Linked DNA regions of Homo sapiens: region 2 is linked to region 1. The links come from fine-mapping of genetic effects on gene expression. A gene starts in region 1. The other region holds a variant in brackets. All regions are shown on one strand. Distances are from middle to middle.

The links. PIP is the estimated chance that this variant, and not a neighbour inherited with it, causes the effect.
Region 2: its variant is fine-mapped to the expression of ATE1 in whole blood (TOPMed, PIP above 0.99).

What each region holds. Positions count from the first base shown.
Region 1 is chr10:121,926,964-121,929,869 of GRCh38, forward strand. It overlaps ATE1 (arginyltransferase 1), which reads right to left and starts at 1,068. Exons shown (of 12, transcript NM_001001976.3): 1 at 881-1,068. The coding sequence starts at 986. It also overlaps the pseudogene ATE1OSP. RefSeq lists enhancers at 280-429, 968-1,834 and silencers at 740-1,159, 1,350-1,649.
Region 2 is chr10:121,901,631-121,904,536 of GRCh38, forward strand. ATE1 (arginyltransferase 1) reads right to left here. Exons shown (of 12, transcript NM_001001976.3): 6 at 761-990. Among named protein-coding and RNA genes, the nearest start is that of ATE1, 25 kb to the right of the region's middle. The variant A/C (reference allele first, on the strand shown) is at 1,538.

The DNA.
Region 1 (2,906 bases):
CCGTTATCGACCAAATCATTCCCCACTTACACCTTTTTCATGGAAAATGCCTGTGTGTTTTCATGCGAATCTCGTTTTCCACAAAGCTAGACTGTTCTATTAAAATAATAGAGTCTACATTCTATATTGGCAAATGCATGGCAAGAGAGGAAATAAACACGATGTTTTGTTTACCAGCAACAAATCTCCCCCAAAGAAATCTGAATCACGATGGAAAAACAAAACAAACTTGTGGGCTGGCTTTGCTGTCGTCCGGGTGGGTGGAGGAAAGACACGGCATATAAGCAAATGGTAAAAATTTCAAACAGATCAGGACAAACAGAATCCCTCGCCGGTAGCGACCGCGGTCACCAGTTTCTTGTCCTTTTTTTTTTTAACTTTTTTTTTTTTTAACCCAGAGATGCAAAGGGCTCATCCTTCCTGTACATTCGTCCAGGGAAGTCTGATTCATACATGACCGGCACCTGTGTGCACACCCACAGCTCCCTCTGCACCGCGTTTCGCCCTCGCTCCCGGGACGCTCCCACCGCAGCACCCACCGGTCAGCCCCGGCCATTAACTACGGCTCTGGGGCGTTCCCTGGCACTGCGCGCCGTCCTTCACCTCACACAATCTACCCCAGACGGGCGTCCGTCTCCCGACTCTGGGGAGACCACCACGATTTCGAGAGTACGGGCACCGGTTAGGATTTTCCTGCAGAACAGGCACCGCGAAGCTGCCCCGCTAAGCCGGCGCCGCGGCCCTCCCGAGAGTGCCCCCTCCGTCTCGGCCGTGGCACTGGGGCCAGGGGCTCCGGCCCCCTCGCGTCCTCGCTGGGGGACCCTGGGATCCCGAGACCCGGGCGCCCGGCTTCCCACGCCCGCCGGCCCGGCTCGCTCACCATTGGAGCGGCTGCCCGACTCGTTCTTGCAGTAGCCGCAGCGGTAGAAGTCCTCGCTAGGGAAATAGTCCACGACGCTGGGCGAACCCCCCGCCCAGAAAGCCATGGCCTCGGCCCCGCGAACGCTCAGCCGCCCGGCCCCGCGTCGCTAGCGCGGCCGCCGCCGCCACCCCACAATGCAGCGCGCCGCCCGGGAGCCTCCCGAGGCTCGCGCGAAGCCACTCGGGCGCCCGCAGGCCCGGCCGGCCCGGCGCCTCTTGGAGCTGACGCCGCCCGCGCCATCTTGACCGAGGGCAGCTTTCCACTATTTCCGTTCCTTCTCCATAAGGGGCCGCCGTCGTCAGTGAGGGTGAGGCGGAGAGACAGAGCGGGAAGGGAAACAGGATGGGGAGAGTCAAGAGGGGAAGGGAAGCGGGAGTCGGGGTGCGAGCCTGCCCTTTCCCCCGCCGAGGGCCTGTGCGGGGCGCGGCGGCCGCGCCAACTCCGGCGTCGGGAACACTCACCGCAGGACGCTTTGCCCTCCTTGGAATCGCAGTAGCCGCAGTGGTAGCCGGCCCTGAGGCCCTTGTATTCCACCACCGACGCCATGGCCGCCGCGAGGGTCCGCTCGGGCCGACCACGCCTCTTGGCGCCCGGGGCCGACCTCGGCGAAGCGCTGGGGCCCGCGGCGGGAGGGGTGGAGAGCGAAGCCTGGCGCGGGGACCCGTGGGCGGGGATGGTGGTCGTGTCCCCAAGCCCTGCGTTTGGGCCGGTGCTTCCCACAGCTGTGCGTTATCAGCCCCATTTCACAGGTAAGGAAACTGAGGACCGGAGGTTGTGATTATCCCAAAGTCATTCCCGGCGGGTCTCGGATTGAAAGTCAGGCCGCCCCTGGCCACCGTGTAAGTGACTTGCTGGAGCTGCTTCCAGACCAGCTGGCACGCACTCCAGTGCCCTGAATACAAGAACACAAGCAGGTATTCCGTGAATGGCGAGGGTTCGCAAATTAAAGAACTCTTAACGGCTTTTAAAGGAAACAACTGTCAGCTAGAGACAGTTGCTGTCTTGTACCACTATAAGTCCGGTGCCTCATACGATTTTTAATGAGATGCTGGAAATACAGGGTTTGTTTGTTTTTTTTAACTCTACAGTCCAAACAAAACAGTTTTACAGGCTGAATCCAGCCCATGGGCCTCCATTTTGCAACCACTATTTTAAGGAAGATTTAAGGAATAAGAGTCTAGGGCAAAATATAAAATTGAGGCTCATGCCTGTAATCCCAGCACTTTGGGAGGCCGAGGCGGGCGTATCATGAGGTCAGGAGATTGAGACCATCCTGGCTAACACGTGAAACCCCGTCTCTACTAAAAATACAAAAAATCAGCCTGGCGTGGTGGTGGGCGCCTGTAGTCCCAGCTAGTCGGGAGGCTGAGGCAGGAGAATGGTGTGAACCCGGGAGGCGGAGCTTGCAGTGAGCCGAGATCACGCCGCTGCACTCCAGCCTGTGTGACAGAGCAAGACTCCATCTCAAAAAAATTTTTTAAAAAATGAGTTCCAGGGGCGGGCGCGGTGGCTCACGCCTGTAATCCCAGCACTTTGGGAGGCCGAGGCGGGTGGATCACGAGGTCAGGAGATAAGAGACCATCCTGGCTAACATGGTGAAACCCCTTCTCTACTAAAAAATACAAAAAATTAGCGGGACGTGGTGGCACGCGCCTGTAGTCCCAGCTACTCGGGAGGCTGAGGCAGGAGAATGGCGTGAACCCGGGAGGCAGAGCTTGCAGTGAGCAGAGATCGCGTCACTGCACTCCAGCCTGGGCGAAAGAGCGAGACTCCATCTCAAAAAAAAAAAAAAAGAGTTCCAACAAGGTAATATGCCTTATCTTTCCCTCTGCGTGCACAGATAATTTAAGCCTGTCTGTCCTCATAGTTTTCCCAGTCAACAATAAAGCTGATGATACAATATTGTTTTAAGTGTGTTTAAAAAAGTGAAATGAAACTCAGAGAAATAGAAATAAATTTTTGAGGTGAGTTTTGACATTCTTGA
Region 2 (2,906 bases), 25 kb before region 1:
ATTTTAGTAGAGACGGGGTTTCACTGTGTTGGCCAAGCTGATCTCAAACACCAGACCTCAAGAGATCCACCTGCCTCGGCCTACCAAAGTGCTAGGATTACAGGTGTGAGCCACCACATCCAGCCCTTGTTTTTGAATTTTATATATGAGAAACTAATACTGAGAAATCTTGATCTGATCTAGAAACGAAAATAAATTTGGAAAAATGGAGGAATTTGGCTCTAAAAGTATTCATATTATGCCCAAAGTGGTTTTGGCACTAATGAGAGAGGATTTCAGCAGTACAATTTAGCCCTATTTAGATAATTCCTAACTGCTGGCTTATGTATATGACACCATTTGCTGTCTTTACCAAGATCAGAATATTATAATGGATGAAATAGTGATTTGCCTTGTGTAATCTATTGTCTTTCACTATCTAAACCAAAACTGCTAAAAACACAATTTTAAAGAGTATTTCTTTCATTTTAACTATTAAATTTCAATCAAGGTAGCATGCTAAAATTGACACTGTTTTCACAAGTTTGGTGGCCAACTATGTATTCTCAAAAAGTCTTTTAAAAAAAAAGGAGTTTCCCTCAAACAGCAGTTAACTTAGTAAATACAAATGTTACTTCTTCCCAGTTCTCTTTAATTTCTTTTAAATTCTCATTATTTAACTAGCAAACATCAACTAATTAGAACTTCAAATAAAAATAAACGATATGCCCAAACAAAAAAAAATCATAATAAAACAAACAACAAAAGTCCTCCAAAGTACCTCTAACTTGTGTGATGCATTCTCTGGTAAAGACTCAAAAATTAAATCTTCGAGTGATTTTGGCTGGTTGGATTTAGCCTTTGGTGGAAACAAAGATGGTGGGTGACCTTGAGCCTGGAAACCCTCAAGTTCTCCAGCTGGGTTCTGCTGCATTAGTTTTAACCTTTTCCTTTCTTTCCGGATTTCCTTTGCTTTTCGACATGGAGGCTTACTCAAATCAGCCCCTTTGCCTAAAAAGAATTTTAAAATATTAGACCAATCACATTTGGTTCTAGAAAAGTTTTTTCACATGTCTCAAAGATTCTACAGTGTAAGTCCAAAGAGTTTCAATGGTTAGGCTAGCTTTGGGGTAGATGTTTCAGAGGATCCTGATACAGAGCTGTAAGTGGATCTAAAATTCTACCTTAGAAGTGGGAGTTGCTAGAGAAAGTAAATAGCACAGAAACTTTCCAAGGTGGCTCTTACTGCTGAAAATCTTTTTTTTCTTTTTTTTGAGACAGAGTCTCGCTCTGTCACCCAGGCTGGAGTGCAATGGCATGATCTCAGCTCACTGCAACCTCCGCCTCCCAGGTTCAAGCAATTCTCCTGCCTCAACCTCCCGAGTAGCTGGGACTACAGGTGTGTGCCACCGTGCCTGGCTAATTTTTGTATTTTCAGTAGAGATGGAGTTTCACCATGTTGGCCAGACTGGTCTCAAACTCCCTTGGACAGACTGGTCTCAAACTCCTGACCTCGTGATTCACCCACCTTGGCCTCCCTAAGTGCTGGGATTACAGG[A/C]ATGAGCCACCAGGCCCGGCCCAAATATCTTTTTTTAAAAAAAAACATTCATCCACTTCTCTGCCTTTGTGAGGAAGAACACAATCAAATCAAAGTACCTGCTGCATTAAAAGGACACTGCTATCTCTGCCCAACATTTCTGAGGGACATTTCTCTGAAAGCACTGGTAACATAAATACTTAGGAACCAGGTATAAAGGAATACTGATCCCAGCGCAAACACTGACAGGTTTTTTTAAATTAAAAGAATCCTTGTGCACCTGGAATTCTAGCACTTTGGGGGGCTAAGGCGGGCAGATCACCTGAGGTTGAGAGTTCGAGACCAGCCTGGTCAACATGGTGAAACCCCATTTCTACTAAAAATACAAAAATCAGCCAGGTGTGGTAGCACACACCTGTAATCCCAGCTACTCAGGAGGCTGAGGCATTAGAATCACTTGAACCCAGGAGGCAGAGGTTGTGCTGAGCTGAGATGGCACCACTGCACTCCAGCCTGGGCGACAGAGTGAGACTCTGTCTCAAAAAACAAAAAAGGAATCCTTGCTTAGTTGAAGGTATCTGTGTCTTTCTCCAAATACTGCAGGTATTTGGGTCTCATTAGTTCAGCTGTAGTTAATCAGAGTTTTGTTCTAATTAACAGACCAAATATCAAACTGACATCCCTTTAAAATAAAAAAATTTTTACTATTATAAACTAAATAAAAATACTTAGAAAAAAACCTGGAAAGGAGACACCATGGTAACAGTCATTTTACTTTGTTTCAGAAACAGAGACAGGATTTACCTTTCTTTGTAGTGTTCTCTTTTCTCCAAATTTTCTTTTTTTTTTTTGAGACAGAGTCTCGCTCTGTCACCCAGGCTGGAGTGCAGTGGCGCCATCTGAGCTCACTGCAACCTCTGCCTACCGGACCATTCGAGCAATTCTCCTGCCTCAGCCTCCAGAGTAGCTGGGAATACAGGTGTGTGCCACCATGCCTGGCTAATTTTTTGTATTTTCAGTAGAGACGGAGTTTCACCATGCTGGTCAGGCTGGTCTTGAACTCCTGACCTCGTGATCCACCTGCCTTGGCCTCCCAAAGTGCTAGGATTACGGGCGTGAGCCACCGCACCTGGCCGAATTTTCCAACAATGAACATTATGCTAGTAATTTTTTAGAAGATATTAAAGAAATAAGGTGTTTAAGATCCCAAAACAGCCCGGTGCAGTGGCTCATGCCTGTAATCCCAGCACTTTGGGAGGCCGAGGCAGGCAGATCACGAGGTCAGGAGATTGAGACCAACCTGGCTAACACGGTGAAACCCTGTCTCTACTAAATATTAAAAAAATGAAGCAGGCATGGTGGCGCACGCCTGTAGTCCCAGCTACTTGGG